Homo sapiens: one gene and its partners. The protein of the gene in region 1 interacts with the protein of each later gene in a biochemical or structural test. Each region holds a gene or a part of one and is shown in the gene's direction. Other genes may lie near its edges. The genes, in order: CASP8, BCAP31, DEDD, OGT, PLA2G4B, ATG4D and TNFRSF10B.

Region 1 (4,134 bases):
GAACCAAGAGAGAGAGCTCTCAACGATCTCCTTCAAAATTTTGATTAATCAAATAGTCTTTTTTTTTTTTTGAGACAGTGTCTCACTTTGTCCCCCAGGCTAGAATGCAGTGATGCAATCTTGGCTCACAACAGCCTCGACCTCCTGGACTCAGATGATCCTCTTGCCTCAACCCCCTGAGTAGCTGGGACCACAGGCACAAGCCACCATGCCCGGCTAATTTTTGTATGTCTTGTAGAGATGGGGTTTCGCTATGTTGCCCAGGCTGATCTTGAACTCCTGAGCTCAAGCCATCCACCTACCTGGGCCTCCCAAAGTGCTGGGACTATAGGCAATTAATAAAGTATTCTTTCTGATTAGAAAAATTATATACACTAATTGAAGATTATTTTAAATTCAGAGAAATTTTTACAAGTCCAAGAACACCATCACTCCATTCATATTATGAATATTTTTATTGTATTTTTACGTTGGCTCTTTGTGGTGTGTGTGTGTAAAATACATTTTGGATCACTCAAATGTATTTTAAAGATTAATGTCTATGCAGGCTGTCCTTCCCTTTCCCCTCTGCCTGCTGAGCCTAAGGCCTTAAGAATACTTTAAGGAGTAAAGTACTAAATCATTAATTCATCCTGAGCTAGTGGCTTTATTAATGAGTATCTCACAAATACCACAAAAATTCAACCTGGCCATGTGGAGCAATATAAAATTATGGCATTTCTTGGTATGTTTTTCTCTTTGGCGAGGAGACAACTTGATCTTGTGTTTCCAGAAGCATGTTAATTGCCCTGCTTGCAGAATCTCTCTGGCTTGAAAGGAGATTATATTCATGGCAGTCTGTGAATTTTCATTTTATTTCATTTATTTATTTGAGACAGAGTCTCACTCTGTTGCCCAGGCTGGAGTGCAGTAGTGCGATCTCAGCTCACTGCAACCACTACCTCCCAAGTTCAAGTGATTCTCCTGCCTCAGCCTCCTGAGTAGCTGGGACTACAGGTGGCTACCACCACGCCCGGCTAATTTTTTTGTACTTTTAGTAGAGACAGGGTTTCACCATGTTGGCCAGGCTGGTCTTGAACTCCTGACCTCAAGTGATCTGCCCATCTTGGCCTCCCAAAGTGCTGGGATTACCGGCGTGAGCCCCTGTTCCCAGCTTGAATTTTCATCTTAAAAAAGACCTTATGTTGTCCTATGTGCTACATATTTCATTACCAGTGTACCTTTCCTGCCATGTCTCATTCTAGATGTGTCTCTTCGTTGTTTGCAGGGGAGGAGTTGTGTGGGGTAATGACAATCTCGGACTCTCCAAGAGAACAGGATAGTGAATCACAGGTAGACGGAAACCTCCAAATCCTTTTTTTTACATTACAGATTCTAGTTATTTAATTTGTTAGCTTTTTTTTTTTTTTGCTGCCAGATAAACTGACAAGGGGCAGAAACTTACTGAAAATTTTGAGAACTGTAGAAAAAATTCACACAAAAAAAGTTAAAAATGTGACTTAATTTTTAAAATGTGACTCCTTCAGTTTTCTATACATTTGAATTTTATTTTAAGACCCGAGATGAAGATACTGGAATAGTTGGAGGGTGGAGGGGGTAATAAGCCTCCTACCAAATCTTCTAGCAGCCGTGCCAGCCTGGATGGGGGAGTGGTTTGGAGAAAGAGTCTAGCAGGAATGGAAAAAGCCAAGCCTTTTCCTTTAGCTTAATGTTTCAAAAATGCTTCTCCTTGGTGATGAGGTGTAAGCAGCAAACTCTCACAATCTAGCCATCTCTGTGTTTTTGTCTCAGTGAACCAGCAGAAACATGTAATTTTTAGGCATAATAACTTCTCTTTATGTAATCAACAATCCACCAAATACATCCTGACTTATTAGACGATCTGCTCCTCCTCATGGTAGGAAGAAGAGGAAATCCTGAATATCTGAAGTAGGCTTGAGAGAGATTATTCACTAGTGTGGGCTCCTGAGAAAATTACCAGACCTCTTTCATCTGAAAGTCAAGGATTAACCCAAGTAATGTGGTACTTTCTAAACAGTATAGCATGCTACAAGCATTGTCCCCACTGAAGAGCTAAAAACACTGTCTTAATATCTTAGTAAATCTTAGTATCTTTTTCCTTTTTTAATGTTTTATTGAGACAGGGGTCTTGCTACGTTGCCAAGCCAGGTCTCGAACTCCTGGCCTCAAGCAATCCTCCTGCCTTGGCCTCCCAAAGTCTGGGATTATAGGTACTAGCCACCGTGCCTGGCCAAATCTTAGTGTCTTAGTATCTCAGTAAATACACTTAATATGCTTAATAAATACTTAGAACACAACTGTAAATAATAAAAACTTAACATACTTGGTACAAACTTAATCAAATATTTAATATCTTAGAGTTAACATATTAAGATAACAGGTTATTTGCCCAAAGTCATAAGGTGAAGTAGAGGCAGGAATTGGGCTTCCTAGCCTGGAGTCCTTTTCTCCACCTCAAGGGGCTACGCAGACCTCCAACTAAATGCTGAGTTTCTCGGTACTGAAACAGCCCTAGGAGAATGAATAGGACACAGCGCCATCCCTGGCCAGTACTATCAGGTACTACAGTTTGGATACCATAACCTACAGTGTAGCCAGGACCTCCCTGACCAGCCCATCTCTTCCCAGCAGCCACCGTGGTCCTGAGAGCTGGGTTAAGCCATCACCTTTAAAATCCTGGGACCACACTGTGCAATGCATGAATGGGAGACCCTCAGCTGTTAGCCACGAAGCACAGATGAGTTCAGTAGACAGCCAAGAGAATCACAAGTCATGGCGTGGGGGCAGCCAAAGACATTCATTCATTCAGTGACTCTTGATTGAGCTCTCACAAGTTAATACACCGTAGTCCCTGGCACAGATGTTATGAACCTCAAGGAGTCTTCTGTATAGTATGGGAAGCAGAAATGAGAACAAACAATAATACAATGTGATGACAACAATATTAATATATGTGCAAAGTGCTCAGGAGGCCCAGGTATTGGGACACTGACTTTACAACGATGGGGCAGAAGTCTGAGAGGTCCTGTGTGAAGGAAATAGGTAGAAACTAGTTCTTCGAGGAAACGACCCCGAGTTGGGGTGGTGCAATGGAAAGCAAGTCCTCTTACTAGGGAGTTGTTTGTTTACATCTCTAGTGTTTGACCCACAGAGTCAGCTCCTGGGTTGGGTTTTTGTTTTCCAGACTTTGGACAAAGTTTACCAAATGAAAAGCAAACCTCGGGGATACTGTCTGATCATCAACAATCACAATTTTGCAAAAGCACGGGAGAAAGTGCCCAAACTTCACAGCATTAGGGACAGGAATGGAACACACTTGGATGCAGGTACAGTAGAACCCAAAAGAGAAAAGTAAAATATTTCTTATGCCTATTTTTTTTTAAATCAAAAGGGAGAGAACAAAAGCTATACCAAAAGGGCCATGTTTCAAGAAAATGGATTTAAACATATTTCCCTGTGGAGGTAAAGAACATTCTTATACATTTATCAGTTTCCTGCTTTTTTTAAAAATTAATTTTTTAAATAAAAGTAATGTATGTATAAATATAAAATATCAAATCTTACTAAAAGACATAATGAAAAGCAGTAATAAGCTTTGTTTTGAATTCAGCTAAATGCATAGCGCTTCTGTGGAATGTATTAGGCGATGAAATTGCTGTGGTATCAAAGTTCTTATAGAGGCTGCATTTTTACAGGTTGGGCTGTTAAGTGCAGCAGAAATTGTGGGTTCTTAACAGAAATAGCATTTTCAAGTATTAAATATTAAACTGGTTAGCAATTCTTTTGCTCAGCCAAATTAAGCTAAGATCAAGAACTTACAAGTTAAATGAAAAAACAATTTGTAGTATGTGAATATAAAAAGTGACTACAACAACAAAAAATAAAAATCATCCATCACCATTGAGAGATTAATAATTTTGATTTGATCAAAGAACTTTTGGAAATAGTGTTTATCAGGCATAACATCAATTATTGATTTGTTTTGCAAATGGAGGTAAGTTTAGAAAATTAATGTAGACTGATTATAATCATCAGGAGTCTGTAATGGCCCCTATTAACATTTTTTTTTTTTTTTTGAGACAAAGTCTCACTCTGTTGCCCAGGCTGGAGTGC
Region 2 (4,134 bases), on another chromosome or scaffold:
TCTTGCTCTGTCACCCAGGCTGGAGTGCAGTGGTGTGGTGCTCGGCTGACAGCAGCCTCCACCTCCCGGGTTCAAGCAATTCTCCTGCCTCAGCCTCACGAGTAGCTGGGACTACAGGTGCCTGCCAACATGCCCAGCTAATTTTTTTTTATATATATATTTTTAGTAGAGATGGGAGTTCACCATGTTGGCCAGGCCGGTCTTGAACTTCTGACCTCAGGTGATCTGCCCATCTCAGCCTCCCAAAGTGCTGGGTTTACAGACGTGAGCCAGTGCGCCCAGCCAACTGCCCACGTTTAAGATTAGTTTTCCAGGCTGGGCGCGGTGGCTTACACCTCTGCACTCCAGCCTGGGCAACAGAGCAAGACTCTGTCTCAAAAAAAAAAAAAAAAGATTAGTTTTCCAGACATTTTGATCTATACGTGGACCAGCATCTTTTTTTTTTTTTTTTTTTGAGACAAGGTCTCGCTCTGTCACCCAGGCTGGAGTGCAGTGGCGCGATCTCGGCTCACTGCAACTTCCGCCTCCCAGGTTCAAGTGATTCTCCTGCCTCACCCTCCTGAGTAGCTGGGATTACAGGTGCCCACCACCACGCCTGGCTAATTTTCGTACTTTTAGTAGAGACAGGGTTTCGCCATGTTGGCCAGTTTGGTCTTGCACTCCTGACCTCAAGTGATCCACCCACCTTGGTCTCCCAAAGTGCTGAGATTACAGGTGTGAGCCATTGCACCTGGCCTTTTTTCCAATAGTCTTGAATGGATGTCAAATTAGAGAATTGCAAGCCACTGAGGCTGACTTTGCATGGGCTATTCGGCCATTGGAGAAGAGTACAAAGCTGGATTTCCATTTTGCTCAGGGCCCTAGAGCTCGTGTGTGTGCTTTCTCTTCAACTCCTGTCCTTTTTGTCTTCTTCACAGATGGCAGAAGATTTTCAAGTCCCGGCTGGTGGAGTTGTTAGTGTCCTATGGCAACACCTTCTTTGTGGTTCTCATTGTCATCCTTGTGCTGTTGGTCATCGGTGAGTGAGCTATGGCTGAGGGCAGCTACCTGACCTAGACCCTGGTCTCTGCTGCAAAACCCTTTGCCACTTTTGATGTGTAGCATCCAGTTTTGGCTGCTAGGAGACAGACCAATGAAATGCTGTGTCTTTCTCTTGAGGGAGGGAAGAGGCTCCCTTTGCCCATGCTGCTGACCGCTAGTCGGTTCTTCACTTTGAGGCCCCTCTAGGCCGTACATGGTGGCTCATGCCTGTAATCCCAGCACTTTGGGAGGCTGAGGTCGGTGGATCACCTGAGATGAGGAGTTCGAGATCAGCCTGGCCAACGTGGTGAAACCCCATCTCTACGAAAAATACAAAATTAGCTGGGCGTGGTGGCGGGCACCTGTAATCCCAGCTACTTGGGAGACTGAGGCAGGAGAATTGCTTGAACCCACGAGGCAGAGGTTGCAGTGAGCCTAAATCGCACCATTGCACTCCAGCCTGGGCAACAAGAGGGAGACTCCATCTCAAAAAAAAAAAAAAGAGGCCCCTCTAGCAGTGGGCGTGGGCTTATACCAAGCAGTTTGTATGCAGCTTATGACGGCCACCTTACATTGCTTTTTTTCAAGACCTTGGAAGGAGGGACGCCTAAGGTTTCTGAGGCTGCTCCTCAGGTCACTCTAGAACTGAAGCCAAGAGAAGCTAACTGGCCTGTGACCTTGGTCTGAGTAGTGCTGCTCACCAGTCACTTAAACAGCAGAATTGCCTGGAGCAGGGCCTCTAATGGGGGACTGAGCAACCAAGCACACAGTGAAGTCCTGCCATTCCCTGTAGTAGTAGGAGGAGAACACAGAGATGTGTGGCAGCATATCTTGGGGAGAGATCCTAGACCTCTCTGCATCTGGGCTAGACTTGAGGTTTTCCCAGGTCGTTCCAGCTCTGTAGTTCTGTAAACTCTGACATTGAGGTGTACACTAGCAGGTGCTTGAAAGATAAACTGGTCCAAGGGCAAGCAGGCTCTGGGATAAGGCCAGGCCAGGTGGTGGTAAGATGAAAGGCAGACATTTTGCAATGAGGTGGTAGGGTGACCATCTGGAGACAAGAATCAATAAAGCTCTTGTCTGACTGGTAGATGTTTGTTGTTTTGCTGTGGTAAGTGATCGATATGTCCCCCTGTTTGGGCTCCAAAGTATTGGCTTGGCTCTGCTGTGGACACCACTCTTGTCTCAGAGCTGTGGTGCCTGCCTAGGCGTGGAACACTCCTCCCACCGAGTCCCAGCAGAAACACTGAGCGGGTGGGGGGCTGTGGTTCAGGGGAATGTGCAAAGCCTCACCCACCAGCTTCAGCATTAGGCATTTCTCCTTCCTGATGTCTCAGAGCCTGATAGGATATGTTCAGGCTGGACTGCCTCTGAACAGGCCAAGTGTTACCTGACAGCTTCCAACCACATAGGGTAGGTGCCAGCTGCCTGAGCACCTCAGTGTTCTTGAAATACTTGGCAAGGCCCCAAGAGGTAGTAGCTCTTTCTAACCAGGGTTCTCGCCCTGAGCAGCCTCCAAGCCAGGAGTAGGTAGGTAATATATGTGTCATCCCCAGGCCACTGAGTTTTTGAACTGAGCATGTGTGTTTTGGCTTTTGGGTCTGGGGTGGGGGTAATAACTGGGGAGGGGAGGGACCATGCTGAGGATGATTCCCTCAGGGTCTTGCCCCTTCCCCAAACCAGAAGGAGTATGTTTCTTTCCTAGAGCAGCTGAGTGGGCTGGAGAGATCCTTTGCGGAATCCAGTAGTTGACAAAGCCTTCATTCTTTTTTGGGATCGGGGAACTGCTTGGAAGTTCTAGGGGGACATATGGCCATGATGACTGGCTGCTTCCTACTCCCATGTTAAGAAGCATAATCTAGAAAGATCTGCAGAGCCTTCTTCAAACAGAAGTGTTAGTCACAGGTACTAGTGAAGGGTAAGGGGCATAACTAGCTAGAGCTGTGGCCTTGCTTGGGGGTGGGGAGGGTTGAGCAGATCCTCCTGGAGGATGGAGTTGCTGAGGGTGCAGGATCTTCCCACCTGGGCTGAGGCCCGAGACAGGGAGGGCTGGTTTCTACTGTGGGACTTGGGTTAGTATTGCTCAGTCCCCCATCCCCACTATTGGTCATTGGCCAAGGTGGTCCTTAGGATGGTGGGGTTCCTGGATGCAGGTGACAGTGTAAGGAAACATGTTTATCTTGTTTTTCTGATTACAAAAATAATGGGTAATTATTCTTAAAAATTCAAAAGTTGAATTTAGAAAGTTAAACTCCCCATAATCCCATTTCCCACAGGTAACCATCATGAGTATTTTGTTGTGCATTTCCAGAGGGGTTTTGTATGCTGACATCTTTAATAAAATGTCTACAACGGTGGGATCATACACACAAAGTATTTATGTTTCTTTCCACATTCCTGCTGGGACATGGCAGGAGGAGCATTCCACGCCTGAGCTGGTAGCACAGCTCTGAGATAAGACTGCTGTCCATAGCAGAGCCTAGCCAATACTTTGGATTGTGCTTTTTCTACCTGCTGCACGTTAGACATCTTTTTTTTTTTTTTTTTTTTTTGAGATGGAATCTCACTTTGTTGCCCAGACTGCAGTGCAGTGGCGCCATCTTGGCTCACTGCAACCTCCGCCTCCCAGGTTCAAGCGATTTCCCCTGCCTCAGCTTCCGAGTAGCTGCAGGTTACAGGCGCCCGCCACCATGCCCGGCTAATTTTTTGTATTTTTAGTAGAGACGAGGTTTCACCGTGTTGGCCAGGCTGGTCTTGAACTCCTGGCCTCAAGTGATCCGCCCACCTCGGCCTCCCAAAGTGCTGAAATTACAGGCATGAGCCACTGTGTCCGGCCAACATCTTTTTATAGCAATCTCATTCTTCTTAAAGATCATGTAGTATTCTCTCATGTGGTTGTGCCGTAATCCATTCTTTATAAGCATCTTCGAATCATTGCAAATTTATGCAAATACTTCTGTGGGATAATTTCAGAGGTGAATTGTTGAACCCGAGGGTATGAACATTTTGCATTTTATACAGGTGTGCTGTTTTTACCCCTGCTAACAGCGTTTGAGAGTACTCGCTTCGTGGTGCTGAGGGATGGGCAGATTTTTATAATGCAAGATCAACATA
Region 3 (4,134 bases), on another chromosome or scaffold:
GCCAAGTACCTCAAAAACTACAGATATTCCTGGTTGGGATGAGACCAGACTTTGCTTGGAAGTAGAAACATAGTAGAGAAGGACCAATCAGGAGGAAATCCTGAAGATACCTATAGACTGTTGGCCCTTGGCTGACTTGGACTTCTCTAAAGAAAAAAGCAAAACTCCAGGAAATACAACAATTCCTCAGAATCAATTATTCTTGGGAAACTGTAGGGGAGAATTCATGTGTTACTATCTCAAATACAGCCAGACCAGTCAGTGGGATCAGGACTTTCTGTGTGCTGGAGTTTCGTCTCTTGGTATTTGGCAGTGTTTCAGATACCAAGACTTGAGTTAGTTCTAATTTTCTGTTCAGAGGGTTACATTCTCCTCACCATTCTGATACCTGTCATCTAGAATCTCTGTATGTTTTAAGTTGAGCTCCCTTGCTTCACTGTCACAGAAATACGAGTATATTTTGGTTTTAGAGGAAATTGGTCATGTTTTCTTTTCTAATTTTACTAATCAGCTGAACTTTCATCACTTTTTTTTTTTTTTTTTTTGAGGCAAGGTCTCACTCTGTACCCCAGGCTGGAGTGCAGTGGTGCGATCAGAGTAGCTGGGACCACAGGTATGTCCCACTATGCCCAGCTAATTTTTGTTTATTGTTTGTAGAGATGGAGTTGTGTCATGTTGCTCAGGCTGGTCTCGAACTCCTGGGCTCAAGCAGTCCTCCTGCCTTGGTCTCCCAAAGTGTTGAGATTACAAGTGTGAGCCACCATGCGAGGCCTCATCACATTCTTTTAATGTTAAAGTTAGATAGATTCTTGGAACCCTTATCTGGGTTGCATTAAGTGGAGAGGGCTGCCTCTTAACCTGCATGACAGTATCCTCATATTTCTCCCAAGCACATGGCCTTGAGGAACTTACATATTTCTATGTTTGCTTCATTGAATAAGCAATATAAGTCTGATTAGTGACCTCACAAGGAGAATTTGCTGCTCATCCAGTTCCAAGACTTTAAAGATGACCCTGAGGCTTACGAGCAGGATCCTTTGTGTCTGTCTTGCAGAGGATTACATTTCTAATATCCCCATAGAACTCCAGATTGAACTAGGTCAAAGTAGACCTCCTGGGATGGGGCAGAAGTGGATGTAGAACTACCACCTGTTCCTCAGCTGAATGGCAACAGCAGGTGACAGAGGACCCAAGGTTGGAGTGGCATGAAACACCTTAGTGCAGTTGGACTTGGGAGTTAAATGAACATGTATGTCCGACAGGCTTTTCTTTTCTTCTGGAATGTTGTTTGATGGGTTTGGATGGAGGGACCAGATGGCTTTTTCTAGATCTAGTGTGGAAAGTGACATGCATTCTTTTGACCCTTTACCATGCTCCACCTAGAATAGGGTTTCTCATCCTTGGCATTATTGACATTTTGTGCTGCATGATTCTTTGTTGTGGCAGACTGTTCTGTGCATTACAGGATGTTTCTTTTTTCTTTTGAGACAGGGTTTCACTCTGTCACCTGGGCTGGACTGCAGTGGCGCTATCACATCCCACTGCAGCTTCGACCTCCCAGGCTCAAGCGATTCTTCTACCTTAGCCTCCCAAGTAGCTGGGATCACAGGTGCATGCCACCACGCCAGGCTAATTTTTATATTTTGCATAGAGATGGGGTTTCACCATGTTGTCCAAGCTGATCTCAAACTCCTGGGCTCAAGTGTTCCTCCCACCTTGGCCTCTCAAAGTGCAGGGATTACAGACGGGAGCCACTGCACCTGTCCTATAGGATGTTTCTAAATATCCCTGGCTTCTACTCATTACATGCTGATGGCAGTCCCCTTCCCCACCAGGCATAATAATCAGAAATGTCTCCAGACATTGCCACATATTCCCCAGGGGTCAAATTTGCCCCTGGTTCAGAACCACTGACCTAAAAGCTATTATAATTCCTAGTACATTGATGATCTAGCCTGGGATCTAGGACTTAAAGGTGGCTAGTGTGTTTGTTTCCTCTCAAATGTAGGGAGTTAACTTCAAAGGATTGAAGCTTATAGAATTACATCCATTGATACATAATTAGGACCACAGTGCTTTCCTGTATTTTGCCTTATTTTCCATTGCGAGGGTATGTGGGGACAGTGTTTCTTCATTTCCTGGGGTTTAAGCACACTTTAAATTAGGGAACTGTGGAGCAACCAGCTCTTCTGGTTGGTTTAATGTGAAACCTACCCAATCTGCTTTATCTGAGAGCCTCACAATCAACAGCTGGCCCAAGGGAACAGGTGGGATAGGGAACAAAGAGAAGTTGCAGGGGCTCTGAGGAGGCTCAGTTTTCTCATGTTGCCTGCTATGAGCAATAACTTATTTTCCTTTAGCACCTTCATTTGTACCCAGTAACAGCAACAGGTGAATCGAGAGGAAGAGGCAAGGAATACCAGTCTATAGTTGAATAGCTATTTCCCATGCTTTGGGTGGGGCATCTGGGCTCTCAAAACTATATATGGATTACATTTCCTGTCTACATATCAGAACCCATGGTATAGGGTTAAGTGATCCCAGAGTGTACCTCCCCTTTTCTTAAGGGAATGAGTTTCTCTGTGCTTTCATTTTAGTTTTTCATCTGAGGAAGAAAGGACCAGTTCCTACTTACTCTTCAGCTTTCTCTATCAGCTTTGTTTTTCCAAAGAAGCTTATTATTTTATTGTTTCCTAGTCTAGCCTCAGTTCCTTTTTGTATAAAATGGACAGAGCAACCTGTTTAATTGTTGAGTAGGGTAGAGTGGTGTGGTATGGTGTGGGTAGTTCTGGACATTGCAGAGGAGGCTATGGCTAGTTAGAATATATGCATGGTAACTGAATTACCTGTATCTGTTTTTAATGGGGTCCTCTCTTGGACTTTTGTGAATTTGTTTCTTAATTGGAATTGCTTGAGGTGATCTCTTGGAGATTAAGTTCAGTTCAACAGTGGGTTGCTCCCACTATATTTGAGGCTCTGTCCATTACTAGGCACTAGGGATATAAAGATGAATATATCTCTCCATGAGTTGAGTAGGATCTAATGGGATAATAAATACACAAATAATTTTAGTACATGGTGATAAATGGTGTAAAGGAGATATGCATAGTGTTCCATAAGCGCACAGAAGAGGACTACTTATCTCTGCATGGGGGTGTAGAAAATGCATTTTGAAGATGGCATCTGAGCTGACTCTTAAAGAATGAGTAGGAGTTAGCCATCTGAAAAAGAGTGATGATGGGGGTGTGGAATAGAGAAGGGAGAGGGGCATTCAGGCAAAGAGAAGAGCCTGAAGAAGGTATAGAGAAATTGCATGATGTATGTGAACTATAAACAAACTGATAATGTTAGAGAATAAAAAGCGGATGTGATGGGAAATGAGGTTGGGAAGGTAGGCCTGATCTTAGAAGGCTTGATGTGTGTGTAAAGAATTTGGAGTGTTCGGCCAGGCGTGGTGGCTCACACCTGTAATCTCAGCACTTTCGGAGGCCGAGGCAGGCGGATCACAAGGTCAGGAGTTCGAGACCAGTCTGGCCAATATGGTGAAACCCCGTCTCTACTAAAAATACAAAAAGTAGCTGGGCGTGGTGGTGGGTGCCTGTAGTCCCAGCTACTCGGGAAGCTGAGGCAGGAGAATCGCTTGAACCTGGGAGGCGGAGGTTGCAGTGAGCCAAGATCGCGCCACTGCACTGCAGCCTGGGCGACAGAGTGACTCTGTCTCAAAAAAAAAAAAAAAAAAAAGAGTTTGGAGTGTTCTTATAGATAACGATGGGGCAATCAATGGGTCTGAAGCAGGAAAGTGACTTGGTCAGTTGTGGACTTCAGACAGCTAACTGAACTAGATGTGGCAGTGGATGGATTTAGGTAGGTTAAGATTGGTGTTGCAGAGAACTTTTAAAGTTACAGTAGTCCAGGTGAGAGATTATTGTAATCTGAACCATGGCAGTGGAGGTGGAAAGGTAGGATAGATTTAAGAAATATCTAGAAGTAGCATTAACAGGAATTTAGGATTGATTGTGTGATTGGAGAGTGTGACCAGAGAGTGCACAGTATAGGATGGTACTGTCTGGTGGAGCAGTAAGTATGAGTGACTTGAGTCAAAGTTGTTGAATTTGGGAATTGATTAATGGCTGC
Region 4 (4,134 bases), on another chromosome or scaffold:
TGTACTCATACTCCTGGGCTCAAGCAGTCCTCCTGCCTCAGCCTCCAGAGTAGCTGGGACTATAGGTGTGTGCCACCACACCCAGCTTCTAAATTTATTGGTTTTTGAATGGATACAGTGAATACCTCCAGTTAGCACTCTTGGAGGTAGCAAATGAAACTAATTTCTTGTCTATCTTTTCTGAGACACTCAGTGTATATATATGTACATTTGAGTGACTTTTTGTAAGTTTTATTGCAATACTAATCTAGCTAGTTACCCACATAAAGTTTTAGGGAGCCTGGTATGTACTGCCACTGGGCCTTGGACCCCATTTTTCCCAGGGCTCAGGGCTCACCTCTGTACCCAGTTGTCACAGTAAGTTCTTTACCTTTATTAATCAGGTTGATTCTACTCTTATTGATAGTGTACCCTCTTACACAGCTGTGGTTCTTGCCATCTTTAACTCTAATGCCCTTGGCTCAGGTTTCCAGTTGCCTATGTGTGTAGCAGAGCAGTCATTGCTACTGATAGTGTACCCAAGCAGTAGGACTATGCTGAGAAGGAAAACTAAAGTGAGAGATGGAACCTTGCTATTTAATATCTAACCTGCTGTTAGCAGGAAGCTTATTGTTGTACCCTACCAAGGAAGTGAGATAGTACTAAAATAAATCATGGGATTACCTCTTGAATGCATTGAATGGCCATGTGTTGTCATCTGGTTCTATGTTTCTTCTAGTGGAAGGTGCTGCTTTACTTATTTATTACTGTTTTTACCAATAAGAATGAAAATGGGATTGTGCAAGTTCCCTTGATTTCAACTAAACATGCCATAGTGATCATATTTTAATTTATTTCAGGATATCTAAAGTCTTAACTAGATTTAAACTTACTGTCAAATGCCCGTTGTCAGTTCAGTACTGGTAGAACCTTGCGTCTGTTCCTTATGTTCTTGTTGACAGTGCTTAAATGCATCATTAGTACATTGTGTACCTGAATCATAGATGTAGTTGGCATTCTATGAAAAATGGTTAAAGAAACTCAGGTTATTTTGGTTTTGCAGCAGTGAAAGAGTAGAATGTTAAGGTGGTATCTTTGGTAACCTTGGTAACTGTTTTCAACAGTGTTTATCTTTTTAAGTTAATAGATATGTCAATTTAGAAGTTGTTCTCTGTGACTTGATTATAGAAATTATCTTTGAGACAGCTATCTCATTTTTTTCATTCTGAATTATCTTCTATAATTATAATGTTGGGTGTTTTCATAATTTTGGTAAGATTTTAGTCTGTCATTTTTTTTTTTTTTTTGGAGACGGAGTTTTGCCCTTGTCACCCAGGCTGGAGTGCAGTGGCGCGATCTCGGCTCACTGCAACCTCTGCCTCCTGGGTTCAAACGATTCTTCTGCCTCAGCCTCCGAAGTAGCTGGGATCACAGGTGCCCACCACCATGCCTGGCTAATTTTTTGTATTTTTACAAAAACAGGCTTTCACCATGTTGGCCAGGCTTGTCTTGAACTCCTGGCCTCAACAGATCCGCCTGCTTCAGCCTCCCAAAGTGCTGGGATTACAGGCGTGAACCACTGTGCCTGGCAGTCTGTTGTATTTGAAGGTGTTATTGCAGATAGCACCTTGCAGTGACAGCACATGTTCTTTGACATGGTGACTCACTAGAGTTGCCTATACCTGGCAATTCCTTTTGCAAATTATGTATAAAATTGTCCTTTCTGTAACGGCTATAACCCTGAGTTGTTTTAAACAGGTCTGTTTCTGAATCTATAGGTTGTTGAATTGTTGCTTGTGCTTTGATTGTGGATGCACAGAATGGAGAGCTGCTGGCATCCTGGCCATCATGTGTGTTCCTGTCATGTTATTTGTTACTTGTTACTGCTGAGCCTCTCTTATACAGCTGCACTGTAGAAAACCATATATTTCGATTCTTCTCTGTTCTGCTTTCTGTTGTATATTTCGATTCTTCTCTGTTCTGCTTTTTGTTAAGGTTGCTGTGCAAATGTCACATTTAAATATGTGAGTGCTTATTGTGCATACAATGCTTTGTTAGGAAATGGGGAGATGTGTTGTGGGGGAAGTTGCGGGTTATAATATAAGACAGGACCTGACCCGTAAAGGAAAAAATGGTGTAAGTTCCTTGGATGATAATTGTTGGAGAGTATTAATCAGAAGATTTCCTCGAGTGGGTGCTTATGACCTAAGCATTCTGTAGGAAGGTAAATAGCAAGTAGACTTCCTTGGCTGAAGTGGTGAGTCAAGTAGTAACAAGAAGTGAATGTAGTAGAGGAGAGTCAATTGGAAGATTTATAAAGAATAGAGAGGCTGAGGAGTTTGAATTTAATTTGAGAGGCAATTGAGAATTACTGTAGGTTTTTATCGACCTGATTTTACTTCATATGTATGTACGTGTCTAGATGTTGTGGCTGGTGGGGGTGGGAGGCTCTAGGAGGAAAGGCAGGAAACTGATGCAATCTTAGGAGAAATAGTTCTACAGGAAAATCTTGCTCATTTCTATCTCCTTTTATTCTCACGATTTTCCCTTGTATACAGTGCCCTCCTCCTTTGTCTATTAAAACCCTACTCATCCTTCAAGGCCCAGCTTAAACTTCTCTTATGAGCTCATCATCTAGTTCTCTTAAAATTCTTTACTACTGAGTGGGCATTTAGTGTGTGCCTTGTCTTTTCACATAGATTGTAAGCCCCTTGATGATAAGGATTCTATATCTTTTCCCTATAGTTCCAGGCATGTTATTGAATTGAGTAACAGTTTGCCTGAAATGTATTAACCTGGGATGGATAAAATGGGCTAGTTTTGAGAAATATAATTGTCAAAAACATTTTGATTTGACAGATGAAGCAGAAGTGATGTCTTGGGTTTTGAACTTTTGGGAGAATGGTGGTGCCCGTGCGTTTTCTAGAAATTAGCTGTTCATGCACATAGGTTTGGATCCCCAAACAGGAGAATTGGATTTCACCGTTACATTTAATATGATGTTTTAGCTTTTCCTAAAACTGCCTTATTGATTATCTTATAGTAATCTTGAAGATAATGTATTTTTAACTATGAGCATTGTGTTAACTTGATATAGTATACTGTAATGGATCTAGATGATAACAAAATATAGATATGCTGTCAGGACTTAAGTGGCATCCATCCAAGAGTTCATAGAAACTAGAGGGTAATAAAATTACGCAACAGCTGGCTACTATGTATGGCCATTACAGTCATTGTTGGAGAATTATTGCAAGACTTCTGATTATTATGACTTAGAAAAGGCATAGGAATTGGTAAAAGTCCAAACATGTATAACCACAATTATCAAGTAGTAGAAGGAGCTTGTATGCATGGATTGGATTATGCAGTCATGGTCTGCCAAAACAGGGGTAACCCTTTCAGTTTAGAAAAAAACATAACCATACAAAGTAGATAGCAAGATTATATAATTCATTACTTCTGAGAGTATAGTGTTAAAAAGTGCTCAGGCTAATTAGAGGAGAAGTCAAATAAGATTAATGGTACCTTTGATGTTTTGAGGATTAGTATTAGCCTTTTGTGCTTGAAGTGATGGGAGACAACCTTACTCTCTAGAACATCAGTCATTGCTTGAAGGACAGTATTGAGTCAGGGAGATGATGGAACTGACCCAGTATGGCTGACCGTAAGATTGTTGTGTGGCAGCCTGTACTTTGTTGGCAGACTTTTTGGTTCACCTGATGGATGATACTATACAACCACAAAAGCTGTTTATCAGTAGAATTAAGTGATTTTGGAAACCATAATATAGTTCCAGAGCAAATCATATATATGATGATTTTTCGGCACAGTTGACAAAATTTCACTTTCTAGGACTTAAGTCTCTTTCACCCATGGAACAGTTTGGAATAATAAGCATACTTCCTGTTGTCATTGTTTCTGCCTGTTGACTGGTAGATGTGACTGACAATGGCAAAATAGGGCAAATAAAAATTTAAGCTCACTGTTGTGATGAGTGTCTCATCCAGATGAATGGACTGATGAGTCAGATGACTAGCAGCACAATTGAGCTGCTAATAAAAAGCAGAGTCAACTGCTTTTCATTATTCACCCACTCAACTCTAATGGCACTTAATACTAATGAGTAATCTAGTGGCAGGTGCCAGGATTGAG
Region 5 (4,033 bases), on another chromosome or scaffold:
GTGCGGGGGCTGCGGCCTGGGGGCAGAGCCAGGGCAAGGGCTGGAGCTGGGGCTCGGTGCTGGACAGCAGGGTGGGAAAGGCCCTGGGCACCCAGGCCGCTGTGGGTTTAGGTTCTACGCATCTTTCCCCAGCCCCATGATCACAAGCTCTCAGATCAACGGGAGGCCCTGAGTCATGGCCAGAACCCTCTGCCCATCTACTGTGCCCTCAACACCAAAGGGCAGAGCCTGACCACTTTTGAATTTGGGGGTGAGTGGCCCAAGAGCTGAGACCTGTGCCCTTGCAGTTGGTGGAATAAGGGGAGAACGAGGACTGTGTGCAGATTGCAGATGTCACACCCACCTCTCCTGAGCCAGGTCCCGTGCTTTCTGGAGACCGGCACCCTACCAGGGTCCCTCAGCCCTTTGGGAAGGAGGCAGGGGCCTTAGGTCCTATGCACGAAGCCCAGGCCACAAGGCCTGGGCCTCCTGGTCCTCAGCTGCCCTAAAGCAAAACCCTGGGTCGGGGTGGGGGTGTGGGTGCCTAAGGGCTCTGCACCATGAGGCTGAGGCGTGGACTCCTCACAGAGTGGTGCGAGTTCTCTCCCTACGAGGTCGGCTTCCCCAAGTACGGGGCCTTCATCCCCTCTGAGCTCTTTGGCTCCGAGTTCTTTATGGGGCAGCTGATGAAGAGGCTTCCTGAGTCCCGCATCTGCTTCTTAGAAGGTGAGGGGCACTGGCAGGCTGGGGAAGCTGGGCCGAGCAGGGAAAATGGGTCCTGGGTGAGAGGGCAGCCTCGGTCAGAAGAGTTTCCTGGGCCAGGACTGGCCATGGGGAAGGGTAGGATTGGGACAAGAGTCGGGGGCCCTCTTCCCTCACGGCCGCTCTTTCAGGTATCTGGAGCAACCTGTATGCAGCCAACCTCCAGGACAGCTTATACTGGGCCTCAGAGCCCAGCCAGTTCTGGGACCGCTGGGTCAGGAACCAGGCCAACCTGGGTAAGTGCTCCGGGCCCTTCATAAGGGTGCCAAGGGGCAGCCAGCTGGGGCTGCACCAGGGGGCGGGGGGTTCACACCTCTTCCCCCTCCAGGGTCACCACCAAGGTGGGGATAAAGGTGCAGGAGTCCCCATTTCCCCCACCTTGCCTGTGTAGACAAGGAGCAGGTCCCCCTTCTGAAGATAGAAGAACCACCCTCAACAGCCGGCAGGATAGCTGAGTTTTTCACCGATCTTCTGACGTGGCGTCCACTGGCCCAGGCCACACATAATTTCCTGCGTGGCCTCCATTTCCACAAAGACTACTTTCAGCATCCTCACTTCTCCACATGGAAAGGTACCTGCTTCTCTCCAAAGTCCTCCTGTGGCCACCTGAGCCTTGAGTCCCCAGTCCAGATACCCCTCACAGTCCACTCCCATTCTCCTGCTTTGAGCTTGATTCCCTGGACTACTTGGAACAGGGGTCTTTTTCTCCTTGTCTTGGGGACCCAGGGCCCACCTGCAGGGCTGTGGGGGTGTTGGTTCAGCAGGAGAGCAGGGACCAGAGGCCAGAGTCTCTCCTTCCAGCAGGAATCTGGTACCCTTGGTATCTGTGACAATTGCTGCTCTCCCCAACCTTCCAGCTACCACTCTGGATGGGCTCCCCAACCAGCTGACACCCTCGGAGCCCCACCTGTGCCTGCTGGATGTTGGCTACCTCATCAATACCAGCTGCCTGCCCCTCCTGCAGCCCACTCGGGACGTGGACCTCATCCTGTCATTGGACTACAACCTCCACGGAGCCTTCCAGGTTGGGAAGGGTGGGCAGCCCACCAGGGAGGCGGTGGGTGGCCCCTGTCCCCTGAAGAGAGGGGCTTTGGAGTCCAGTGTCTGGTTCAGCTTCCTTTAGGAGCTGTGATTGGGACACTGGAATCTTAATTTGCCACCAGAGGAGCTCATTCTTTTCCGGAAGTTGGGAGGCTGGCGAGGTTCTCCTGGTATCTTGTAGCTGGGTCCCCTTTACTGACCTGCGAGGTGTGGTCCTGGGCCTCTGGGCCCACCTGCTGAGTCTGCTTTGGCTCCCAGTGTCAGAACTGGAATGCTGGGAGTAACCCGGCTCCGTCTAGCCCCAGAGGAGCTGCCACCGAGGCCTGTCAGGTGTGGAGAGTTTTTTTCCAACGACTGGCTTCATAGGCCCCACTGGAGACCGTTTTGGCATTTGAGCCCCAGGTCCTGTGCATCTTACGTCAGCCCCAGTGTTGAGGATGCCAGGGGCCCTGTCCCTCTGAAGCCCCTTCTGCCTGCCCTGCAGCAGTTGCAGCTCCTGGGCCGGTTCTGCCAGGAGCAGGGGATCCCGTTCCCACCCATCTCGCCCAGCCCCGAAGAGCAGCTCCAGCCTCGGGAGTGCCACACCTTCTCCGACCCCACCTGCCCCGGAGCCCCTGCGGTGCTGCACTTTCCTCTGGTCAGCGACTCCTTCCGGGAGTACTCGGCCCCTGGTGAGCTGCTGTTCACCTCCCCATCCTGCTGCCCCAGTCCCCCACACCTCCTCCGTCCCCTGTGCCTCTCCAAACCTGTCTTCCCCACAACGTGTTCCCCATGCCAGGCTGCACTCTCTCCACAGGGGTCCGGCGGACACCCGAGGAGGCGGCAGCTGGGGAGGTGAACCTGTCTTCATCGGACTCTCCCTACCACTACACGAAGGTGACCTACAGCCAGGAGGACGTGGACAAGCTGCTGCACCTGACACATTACAATGTCTGCAACAACCAGGAGCAGCTGCTGGAGGCTCTGCGCCAGGCAGTGCAGCGGAGGCGGCAGCGCAGGCCCCACTGATGGCCGGGGCCCCTGCCACCCCTAACTCTCATTCATTCCCTGGCTGCTGAGTTGCAGGTGGGAACTGTCATCACGCAGTGCTTCAGAGCCTCGGGCTCAGGTGGCACGGTCCCAGGGTCCAGGCTGAGGGCTGGGAGCTCCCTTGCGCCTCAGCAGTTTGCAGTGGGGTAAGGAGGCCAAGCCCATTTGTGTAATCACCCAAAACCCCCCGGCCTGTGCCTGTTTTCCCTTCTGCGCTACCTTGAGTAGTTGGAGCACTTGATACATCACAGACTCATACAAATGTGAGGCGCTGAGACCATCTGTTATTACTGCTGAGAAGGGCCATGTCATTCTAGGCTCTTGGCTGTACATGGCAAGGGCTGGTACAGAGCTCGCTCATCAGTGTTCTTCCTCCGAAGAGCACATTCTCTGCACACGTCTGCGTCTACCTGTGCTCAGAGTCACCCCTTCCAAGCAAGGAGGAGGCCACATGGGCCTGGGGTAGCCCTGGCCTTGCCCACCTGCTCTGCCGTAACACGTCTCCTCTTCACCCAGACAGGAATGCAGGGGGAGGCCAGGCAATGGCTGTTTCCTGCCACATGGTAGGACCCATCTAACCAGAAGGAACTGTCTATTCCAGAAGCTGGGCCTGGGGAACTGGGTTGAAGCAGCCACGGGAAGGAGCCCTTTTGCCTGTAGCTGAGTCTTATTCTGGTCCCTTAGATGTGTCCTCGCTTGTGCCCCTGAAGTTTGGTGTTGCACTGGGGTTCACCTCAGGGATCAGACCTGTTGGGAAAACGGAATGAATTTAGTAGGGTATGGCCACCCCAGAATCTTCTCCAAACAAACACACACTGGTGCCCCTGCCCTCCCCTGGACCAGCCAGCCTCCTAGAATAAGCGTGGGAGTGGATTCCAGAGCTGACTGACAGGCGCTGCAGCAGCGACCACAGTGACGCGTGAGTGGGTGGGAGTTGCCTCGACTTTCATAACCCAACTCTACGTCTGTCAGCTGGCCTAGCAGCCCCAGCCCTGGGTTAGAGACAGCAGAAAAAATGGCTGTCCTGGTAGCCTCAGGAGCCACTGTGTCCAGGACAAGGCCTGTCCCGTCAGCAACACATCATCTAAATCATATATTGGGCTCTGCAGGACTGGGAGCAGATGGTTACACTGGAGACCACAGCCGTGGCTGCCACCCCTCATGGTATGAGCCCTCCAGGCACACGGCTGTATATGCGTGTGCACATCTAGGCACATCCTGG
Region 6 (4,778 bases), on another chromosome or scaffold:
GCAGAATTGCTTGAACCTGAGAGGTGGTGGTTGCAGTGAGCCAAGATCGCACTAGTGCACTCCAGCCTGGGCAACAAGAGCGAAACTCCATCTCAAAATAAATACATAAATAAATGAAAATAAAATAAAAAATAAAAATTGTCCCTGGCCAGGTGCAGTGGCTCATGTCTGTCATCCTAGAACTTTGGGAGGCTGAGGCTAATCGTTTCAGCCCAGGAGTTCAAGACTAGCCTGAGCAACACTGGGAGACTCTATCTCTACAGAAAAATTTTTAAAAATTAGCCAGGGGTGGCCAGGCACGGTGGCCCACGCCTGTAATCCCAGCACTTTGGGAGGCCGAGGTGGGCGGATCACGAGGTCAGGAGATCGAGACCATCCTGGCTAACACGATGAAACCTCGTCTCTACTAAAAATACAAAAAATCAGCCAGGCGTGGTGGCGGGCGCCTGTAGTCCCAGCTACTCGGGAGGCTGAGGCAAGAGAATGGTGTGAACCTGGGAGACAGAGCTTGCAGTGAGTCGAGATCGCGCCATTGCACTCCAACCTGGGCAACAGAACGAGACTCCGTCTCAAAAAAAAAAAAAAAAATTAGCCAGGGGTGGTGGCATGTGCCTATAGTCCTAGCTACTCAGGTGGCTGAGGCAGGAGACTTGCTTAAGCCTCGGCAGTTGAGACTGCAGTGAGCCATGATCAGGCCACTGCACTGTAGTCTGGATGACAGAGCAAGACCCTGTCTCAACAACAACAACCAAAATCTGTTTGGGCCTCGCAAGGTTAGAGAAAAAAAATTAAAAAATAAAATAAAATAAAATATTTTCCTGTAGTCTCAGCTACTTGGGAGGCTGAGGCAGGAGGATCACTTGAGCTAAGGAGTTTCAGGCCAGCCTGGGCAACATAGAGAGAACTTGTCTCTATAAAAAGTTAACTGATTACTTTTTAAAACAAAGAGGTTTTTTTTCAGCCTTATTGAGGTATAATAGACATATACAAAACCATGCAAATTTTAAGCGTACAATCTGATGAGTTTTCACACCTGTGAAGCCACTATTACAGTTAAGATACTGAATTTATCCACAGCTCCAAAAAATGTCTTCCTGCCTGAGGTGGTGGCTCACGCCTGTAATCCCAGCATTTGGGAGGCTGAGGCGGGAGGATCTCATGAAGCCAGGAGTTTGAGACCAGCCTAGACAACATAGCGAGACCCCTTATCTACAAATAAAATTTAAAAAATTAACCAGGCATGGTGGCTCCTGTCTGCGGTCTCAGCTACTCTGGAGGCTGAGGTTGGAGGATCAGAGTTGGAGGCTGCAGTGAGCTATGAAAGCGCCACTGCACTCCAGTCTGGACAACAGAGCCAGATGCTGTCTCGACAAAACAAACACTGAAAAAAACTTTCCTGGAGCACTTCATTCATCCCTCCCTCCCGCGCCTGCCTACCCCTGGATTTTTTTTCCCTGAGCATAATTCTCATGAAGATTCGTCTATGTTGTTGCGTGTATTCCAGCCCTATTTTGCACATGAGGAAACTGAGGCACAGAGAGGCGTGGCTTGCCCCGGAGGTCACACTAGTCGATTTGGTCCCAGGCCAGGGCGGGTTCTGGGTCGGCAGCCCGCGCAGGTGCACTCGGGAGGCGGGGCGGGCGCTGCAGGTGCGCAGTCAGTCTCACCTGGGCGCCTGCCAGGAGGTCAGTCCTGGGCCCTGGGGGGCAGGACTAGGGGCGGGGCCAGGGGCAGGGGTTCCCCAGCTCTGCTGCCTCCGATAAGGGCCTGAAGGGGCTGTCGCGCTCCTGGCGGTGTGATAAGGAGGGCGGGGGGAGGCCGCGGGAAGGCGTCGGGGTTTGAGGTCCCCGCCTGGCGACCCGGGATCGGGGCAGGAAAGGCGGCTGGGCGGGGAGAGGGCGGGGCGGGGCGTCTGGCTTGGCCACGCCCACCGTCATCCGGGGTCCTGGCCCGCTAAGATGGCGATGGCTGCGGTAGCAGCGGCGGCGGCTGTTGCCTGGCCCGGTACCCTGGGGACGGGGGCCGAGTAGCGCCTTCCCCGGGCCCCGTGAACCGGCTGCGGGTCGCCCTTGGGGGGCAGCGGCCGCAGCCCCCCACCTGGGCCCTCGGTCCGCCCTCCCGGCGCGTCCATGAACTCAGTGTCGCCGGCCGCCGCGCAGTACCGGAGCAGCAGCCCGGAGGACGCGCGCCGCCGGCCCGAGGCCCGCAGGCCGCGGGGTCCCAGAGGCCCAGACCCCAACGGCCTGGGGCCTTCCGGAGCCAGCGGCCCCGCTCTTGGCTCTCCCGGGGCTGGCCCGAGTGAGCCGGACGAAGTGGACAAGTTCAAGGCCAAGTTCCTGACAGCCTGGAACAACGTCAAGTACGGTGAGGAGGGGGCCCGGAGATCGTGGGGGTGTCGGGGGCCGTTGAGGAAAACCAGACCCCGGTCCTGCCAGTTATCCCACCCTTGTTCCCGTCCTGAGTCACCTGTGGGTCCCCTCCCTGCCCGGCCCAGGGTGGACCTGTGGCAGGTCCAATAGTGTTTTCAAGCCCCGCCCATTCCCCTGTGTGACCTTGGGCAAGATCCTTTGCTTCCTGGCGCCTCCGTTTTTGCCCCTCTCTGTAAAATGGGTACAATAATCAGAACTACCTTCCTTCATCCTGAATTGATGGTGGACACTCCTGTAGCTGTCACTGGGGGCCCCACCTCCGACGGAATCCCCGGAGCCACCCCGGAGATAGGAACTAGGATCGTGCCCATTTCACAGATGGGGGAATGGAAGCGCTGTTGCTGTCATGCAAGTGCTTCATCTCGCTGGGCGCTGCCCCTACGTCTCCCCAGGTTGGGTGGTTAAAAGCCGGACCAGCTTTAGCAAGATCTCCAGCATCCACCTCTGTGGCCGCCGCTACCGTTTCGAGGGCGAGGGTGAGCTGGTGGTTGGGACCAGGGCTGGGGGAGGCCTCTCCACGCCCGCCGGAGTGTCCCTGGTGGCAGCTGACAGACCCGCTCTTGTAGGTGACATACAGCGTTTCCAGCGGGACTTTGTGTCCCGCCTGTGGCTCACATACCGCCGGGACTTCCCGCCCCTTCCTGGGGGCTGCCTGACCTCGGACTGTGGCTGGGGGTGCATGTTACGCAGCGGCCAGATGATGCTGGCACAGGGCCTTCTGCTGCATTTCCTGCCCAGAGGTGAGCCATAGGGGGGAAGGGGTGCACTAGGAGTACAGGGTCAACTGCCATATCAGCAGTATTAGAATTACTTACCAACTAAGAGTTCAAAGTCACGTTAGAATTGTGTGTCAAGTAAGTTTTGGAGAGATGAGAGTTGTTTATAAGAGTTTCAGCCGGGGTTGGAAACGGTGGCTCATGCCTGTAATCCTAGCACTTTGGGAGGCTGAGGCGGATGGATCCCTTGCGGTCAGGAGTTCAAGACCAGCCTGGCCAATATGATGAAACCCCATCTCTACTAAAAATACAAAAATTAGCCGGTTGTGGTGGCACACGCCTGTAATCCCAGCTACTCCCGAGGCTGAGGTGGGAGAATCTCTTGAACCCAGGAGGCGGAGGTTACAGCAAGCCAAGATCGCACCACTGCACTCCAGCCTGGGCAACAGAGGGAGACTCTGTGTCAAAAATAAAAATAAAAAAAAGTTTCACCAGGCACGGTGGCTCATGCCTGTAATCCCAGCACTTTGGGAGGCTGAGGCTGGTGGATCATGAGGTCAGGAGTTCAAGACCAGCCTGGCCAAGATGGTGAAACCCCATCTCTACTAAAAATACAAAAATTAGCTGGGTGTGGTGGCAGGCACCTGTAATTTGGCAAGGTAAAGCAGAGAATTGCTTGAACCGGGGAGGCGGAGGTTGCAGTGAGCCGAGATCCGTGCCACTGCACTCCAGCCTGGGTGGCAGAGCGAGACTCAGTCTCAAAAAAAAAAAAAGAGTTTTGGCTGGGCACTGTGCTGCATGCTTGTAATCCCAGCTACCTGGGAGGCTGAGGTGGGAAGATTGCTCGTGCCCAGGTGTTCAAGTCTGCAGTGAACTATGATCCTGCCACTGCACTCCAACCCGAGTGACAGAATGAGACTCCAACAATAACAGGTCGAGTGTGGTGGCTCATGCCTGTAATCCCAGCACATTAGGAGGCTGAGGCAGGAGGATCGCTTGAGCATAGGCATTCGACACCAGCCTAGGCCACATGACAAGGCTCCTGTCTCTACAAAAAAATTTTAAAAATTAGCTGAGTGTGGTGGCATGTGCCTGTGATCCCAACTACTCAGGAGGCTGAGGCGGGAGAATCTGTTGAGCTCAGGATTTAGAGGCTGTAGTGAGACGTGATTGTGCCACTGCACTCCAGTCTGGATGACAGTGAGATCCTGTCTTTATTTATTTATTTTATTTATTATTATTATTATTTTTTTTTTTGAGACTGAGTCTTCCTCTATCATCCTGGCTGAAGTGCAGTGGAGAGATCTTGGCTCACTGCAACCTCTGCCTCCCAGGTTCAAGCGATTCTCCTGCCTCAGCCTCCTGAGTAGCTGGGATTACAGGTGCCCGCCACCACGCTTGTCTACTTTTTGTATATTTTTTTTTTTATCAGAGAAGGGGTTTCACCATGTTGGCCAGGCTGGTCTCGAACTCCAGGCCTCAAGTGATCCACCTGCCTTGGTCTCCCAAAGTGCTGAGATTACAGGCATGAGCCACCGCGTCTGGCTGAGATCCTGTCTTTAAGTAACAAAAAATAAATAAATAAATAAGGATAAGTATATGTTTCAGGAATATGTAAATTCTGTTGAATTAC
Region 7 (4,134 bases), on another chromosome or scaffold:
TATCCATTTCTTCCGGGTGGTTCAATCCTTTGGCATATAATTGTTCATAATATTTTCATATGATCCTTTGCATTTCTGTGGTATGCATTGTAATGTGTCTCATTTTTTTTTTTATTTGAGACAGAGTCTCCCTCTGTTGCCCAGGCTGGAGTGCAGTGTGACAATCTCAGCTTACTGCCACTTTCACCTCCCAGGTTCAAGTGATTTTTGTGCCCCAGCCACCCAAGTAGCTGGGATTACAGATGCACACCTCCATGCCTGGCTTTTTTTTTTTTTTTTTTTTTTTGTATTTTATTAGGGACGAGGTTTTGCCATGTTGGCCAGGCTGGTCTCCAACTCCTGGCCTCAAGTGATCCATCCGTCTCGGCCTCCCAAAATGCTGGGATTATAGGCATGAGCCACTGCACCTGGCCTCCTCATTCATTTTTGATTTAATTTATTTGTCTTCTTTCTTTTTTCTTAGTTAGTCTAGTTAAAGTTTAGTGATTTCATTTATTTTTTCAAAAAACTAACAGAATTTTGATAATCTTTTGTATTTTTTTCAGTCTCTATTTATTTTTGCTCTGATTTTTATTATTTCTTTTGTTCTGCTAACTGTGGGCTTAGTGTATCTTTTCTTCTATTTCCTTGAGGTACAACATTAAGTCTTGTATTTGAGATCTTTCTTCTTTTTTGATGTAGGCGTTTATTGCCATTTCCTCTTAAAACTGCTTTTGCTGCATCCCATACATTTGGTTATGTTATGTTTCCATTTCATTTTCTAATATACTCTTAAAATTCCCTTTTGATTTCCTCTTTGACACATTGGCTATTCAGGAGCTTGTTACCATTCAAGTTCTTTGTTCATTTCTTAATCACATTGTTGGCTTTTTGTTGTTGTTGTTGAGTTGGAGTTTTTTATATATTTTAGATATTAACCTTTTATCAGATATACAACTAGCAAATGTTTTCCTCTTCCTGTGGGTTGCCCCTTCACTGTTGATCATCATTGGATGCACAAAAGTTTTTAATTTTTACATAGTGCAATTTATCTACTTTTTTTCCTATATTGCTTGTGTTTTGGGGATCACATTCAAGAAATCATTGCCAAATCCAAGGTCAGGAAGAATAGTTCCTATGTTTTCTTCTAAGTTTTAGGGTTTTCACTTTTATGTTAGATTTTGGATCCATTTTGAGTTAATTTTTGTATACGTGTAAGTTAAAGGTCCGAGGTCATTGTTTTGTGATGAGTCAATGTCTAGATTTCCCAAGACCATTTTTAAAAAGATTGTCCTCTCAATTAAATGGTCTTTATACCTTTGCCAAAAATTACTTGATCATATACAGTCATGCACCACATAACAACATTTCTGTCAACAACAGACTGCATATGTGATGGTGGCTCCATGCAATTATGTAACATGCTACACAGGTTTGTAGCCTAGGAGCAAAAGGCTATACCATATAGGCCAGGTGTGTCATAGGATACACCATCTAGGTTTGTGTAAGTACACTCTTCTGATGTTCACACAACACAATTGCCTAATGACCCTTTGCTCAGAACAATGTTGAGCAATACATGGTTGTACGTGCAAGTTCATTTCTGGGCTCTCTGGTCTATATGTCAGGCACCTTTTAAATCAGAAGTTCACTATTTAATGTTTGATCCTGTATCCCAATTTTTTAAGTTTGCTATATTATAACCCCCATTTATAAAAATGTGTGTCTGTGTGTATGTCTGTGTGAGAGAGAATAAGAGAAAGAGAGAAAGAGAGAATAGGCATACCTATGGAAAAATAGTGGAACTAAATGAGACAAAATATTAATGGATGCTATCTTTAGCTGAGAATATCACGTGTGGTCTGTGTATTCTTGTAAAAACTTTCCTTGCCCACATTTTCTGGAATGAACATGTTTAGAAGAGTTTTGCAGGTGTATGTTACTTGGCCTTCCCTGAAATATGAAGGGACAAACAAACACTAAAGGATGTTTGAGAGGTGAGAGCTGCAAGAAAGATGAGGGTTCTGTTTAGCTTGGGTGCCTGGGCTCAAGAGAATGTGAGTGGATCCTGGGAGGGGTGAGGTCTGGAAGCCACTCATGCCCATCCCTGCTTTGTCCCCACAGGTCTCAGCTGAGTCTGCTCTGATCACCCAACAAGACCTAGCTCCCCAGCAGAGAGCGGCCCCACAACAAAAGAGGTCCAGCCCCTCAGAGGGATTGTGTCCACCTGGTATGTTCAAGATGGGTCTCTAATCCTTGCCCCTCCTCCCCTTGTCTCCATGAGCTTCCAGTCTGTTTCCTTTGCACTTCCTTGTTCTTTATTCCACAGAGAGGCATTGGGTGCCTCCAGTTCAAGGCTCTGTCCTTCTGGAGCCTTCCTGCTAGGATGGTATCAAGACACACAAATGAATGAGACAGCCAAAGAAACTGATAGGAACCTTGAGAGAGAATTGAGTGGGACAGAGATGGGGCTGGTGAGGCCTCCAGGCAATGGTGACTTTGGGCTGACATCCGGAGGAGGGCAGGGCCAGAGGTTCAGAGAGCCAGGAAGAGTGCTCCTAGGAGGGTTCCACTGGAACAATTGCCAGGGGGCAAGAGTTGGAGAAGATGGAGCAACAGCAGGGGGCTGCTGTGGGGAGTGGAGGGTTAGGAAGTTAGAGAGACACGTGGGGTCAGATCCCACACAGATGAAGCTGGATTTTATTTCATGAGTGATGGATGTCCCTGAGAAGTTTTCAGCAGAGGGCCACCAGCATCGGATGTACATCTTGAGTGCCCACTCCTGGACTGAACCGGAGCAAGACAGGAAGCAGGTGGAGGGCCTTGAGTGTGAGGCGCTCCCCTGGGATGTTATGTGGTGTCCCGTAAGGTCATTTGAGCCCCCAGAGATGCAGCAGGAACCTGGCCTGAAGTGTGCTTGACTGTTGTGTTCGCCTCGCACTTCTTCCCCCTTTTCCCCCATGTGTATGAGTTAGGAATTGATTGCTGCATGAAGGTTTCCAGGGCAGGCAAGTGTGGCAAGCAGTGGCTTTTAAAATCCATTTACAAAGTTGCATTTCTTTTCCATGACTAAGGGCCACAGGAAAGGCTTGCCTGAGGGCAAACCCTCACATTGCACATGTGGGCTTGCCAGGAGCAGAGCATGGAGAAGGAAGAACCCAGCGTGAAGCAGACACAAACTCATCTGTAAATGCTCCTATTGCTGTGGTCCAGGGTCAAGACCAGGAAGCAGGACGGGAATAGGAAGGACTCAAGACATATTTGGGGTGTGGATGGATGACGTGTGGGGAATGAGGACAATCGAGGCACCAAATTCAACTGCTCAGGGTAACTTGGCCTCTGAGGGGACAGTGTGTGGCAGGGCTAGCAGTACACATTTGGGGACCCTAGCACATAGGTGATGCTTGAAGCCGCTGTCTTGAGTGTGTCCACCTGGAAGAAGTTGTAAATACTGAGGAGGGGCACAACTGAGCCCATGAGGATTTGAAGTTGGAGACGATAGGCCAGGGAGACAGGACTGCAATGGGCTGAGCAGGAGCAGTTGGAGAACTTCCATCCTAGAGGAGAGATGGCCCTTCCAGCCACAGGGAGCAGGCCATAGCAAGTGTCAAGGACTGAGATGTGGAAACTCCTCGAAATGTGCATTTCTCTTCCTGTGAATGAGGTCAAGAATCTGTTCATGACACAGACACTGTTTGTACACTGGTTCTCCTAGGTTTTCTTCACTCCTAGTAAGAGGTTAGGTTTTTTTTTTTTTTTTTTTTAAATCATTGAGTCACATGAATTCTTACAGATTAGGGAAATTATACATTGATTGATTGATTGATTGACTGATTGAGATAGGATTTCACTCTGTTGCCCAGGCTGGAGTGCGGTGGCAGGATCATAGCTCACTGTAGCCTCAACCACTTGGGCTCAAGCGATCCTCTCACCTCGGCCTTCCAAAGTGTTGGGATTACAGGCGTGAGCCACTGCGCTGGGTCCAAAATTCTAATAAAAATTCCCATATAACGCCGGGCGCAGTGACTCACACCTGTAATCCCAGCACTTCGAGAGGCCAAGGTGGGCAAATCACTTGAGGCCAGGAGTTTGACACCAGCCTGACCAACATGGCGAAACCCTGTTTCTACTAAAAATACAAACATTAGCTGGGTA

The links.
Region 2: of the proteins of CASP8 (region 1) and BCAP31, one has a biochemical effect on the other in vitro, tested with the Homo sapiens proteins (2 studies listed by BioGRID, with this or other methods).
Region 3: the proteins of CASP8 (region 1) and DEDD form a complex in vitro, tested with the Homo sapiens proteins (2 studies listed by BioGRID).
Region 4: the proteins of CASP8 (region 1) and OGT form a complex in vitro, tested with the Homo sapiens proteins (one large-scale study listed by BioGRID).
Region 5: of the proteins of CASP8 (region 1) and PLA2G4B, one has a biochemical effect on the other in vitro, tested with the Homo sapiens proteins (one study listed by BioGRID).
Region 6: of the proteins of CASP8 (region 1) and ATG4D, one has a biochemical effect on the other in vitro, tested with the Homo sapiens proteins (one study listed by BioGRID).
Region 7: of the proteins of CASP8 (region 1) and TNFRSF10B, one has a biochemical effect on the other in vitro, tested with the Homo sapiens proteins (one study listed by BioGRID).

What each region holds. Positions count from the first base shown.
Region 1 is NC_000002.12:201,273,622-201,277,755, forward strand, and holds part of CASP8 (caspase-8 isoform 2 precursor), read left to right. Parts: intron 1-1,267; coding exon 1,268-1,332; intron 1,333-1,901; exon of another isoform or gene 1,902-2,015; intron 2,016-3,205; coding exon 3,206-3,347; exon of another isoform or gene 3,348-3,921; intron 3,922-4,134. UniProt on the Homo sapiens protein: Thiol protease that plays a key role in programmed cell death by acting as a molecular switch for apoptosis, necroptosis and pyroptosis, and is required to prevent tissue damage during embryonic development and adulthood.
Region 2 is NC_000023.11:153,717,756-153,721,889, reverse strand, and holds part of BCAP31 (B-cell receptor-associated protein 31), read left to right. Parts: intron 1-917; coding exon 918-1,018; intron 1,019-4,134. UniProt on the Homo sapiens protein: Functions as a chaperone protein. Is one of the most abundant endoplasmic reticulum (ER) proteins.
Region 3 is NC_000001.11:161,125,951-161,130,084, reverse strand, and holds part of DEDD (death effector domain-containing protein), read left to right. Parts: intron 1-4,134. UniProt on the Homo sapiens protein: A scaffold protein that directs CASP3 to certain substrates and facilitates their ordered degradation during apoptosis. May also play a role in mediating CASP3 cleavage of KRT18. Regulates degradation of intermediate filaments during apoptosis.
Region 4 is NC_000023.11:71,539,403-71,543,536, forward strand, and holds part of OGT (UDP-N-acetylglucosamine--peptide N-acetylglucosaminyltransferase 110 kDa subunit), read left to right. Parts: intron 1-4,134. UniProt on the Homo sapiens protein: Catalyzes the transfer of a single N-acetylglucosamine from UDP-GlcNAc to a serine or threonine residue in cytoplasmic and nuclear proteins resulting in their modification with a beta-linked N-acetylglucosamine (O-GlcNAc).
Region 5 is NC_000015.10:41,845,071-41,849,103, forward strand, and holds the end of PLA2G4B (cytosolic phospholipase A2 beta), read left to right. Parts: intron 1-132; coding exon 133-250; intron 251-567; coding exon 568-705; intron 706-872; coding exon 873-977; intron 978-1,132; coding exon 1,133-1,312; intron 1,313-1,598; coding exon 1,599-1,765; intron 1,766-2,266; coding exon 2,267-2,453; intron 2,454-2,578; coding exon 2,579-2,790; 3' UTR 2,791-3,073; downstream 3,074-4,033. Other genes in the region: JMJD7-PLA2G4B protein, read left to right, coding at 133-250, 568-705, 873-977, 1,133-1,312, 1,599-1,765, 2,267-2,453, 2,579-2,790; SPTBN5 (spectrin beta chain, non-erythrocytic 5), read right to left, coding at 3,546-3,558. UniProt on the Homo sapiens protein: Calcium-dependent phospholipase A1 and A2 and lysophospholipase that may play a role in membrane phospholipid remodeling.
Region 6 is NC_000019.10:10,541,962-10,546,739, forward strand, and holds the start of ATG4D (cysteine protease ATG4D isoform 1 precursor), read left to right. Parts: upstream 1-1,942; 5' UTR 1,943-2,129; coding exon 2,130-2,364; intron 2,365-2,747; exon of another isoform or gene 2,748-2,775; coding exon of another isoform or gene 2,776-2,821; coding exon 2,822-2,905; intron 2,906-2,995; coding exon 2,996-3,169; intron 3,170-4,778.
Region 7 is NC_000008.11:23,041,213-23,045,346, reverse strand, and holds part of TNFRSF10B (tumor necrosis factor receptor superfamily member 10B isoform 1 precursor), read left to right. Parts: intron 1-2,103; coding exon 2,104-2,209; intron 2,210-4,134. UniProt on the Homo sapiens protein: Receptor for the cytotoxic ligand TNFSF10/TRAIL. The adapter molecule FADD recruits caspase-8 to the activated receptor.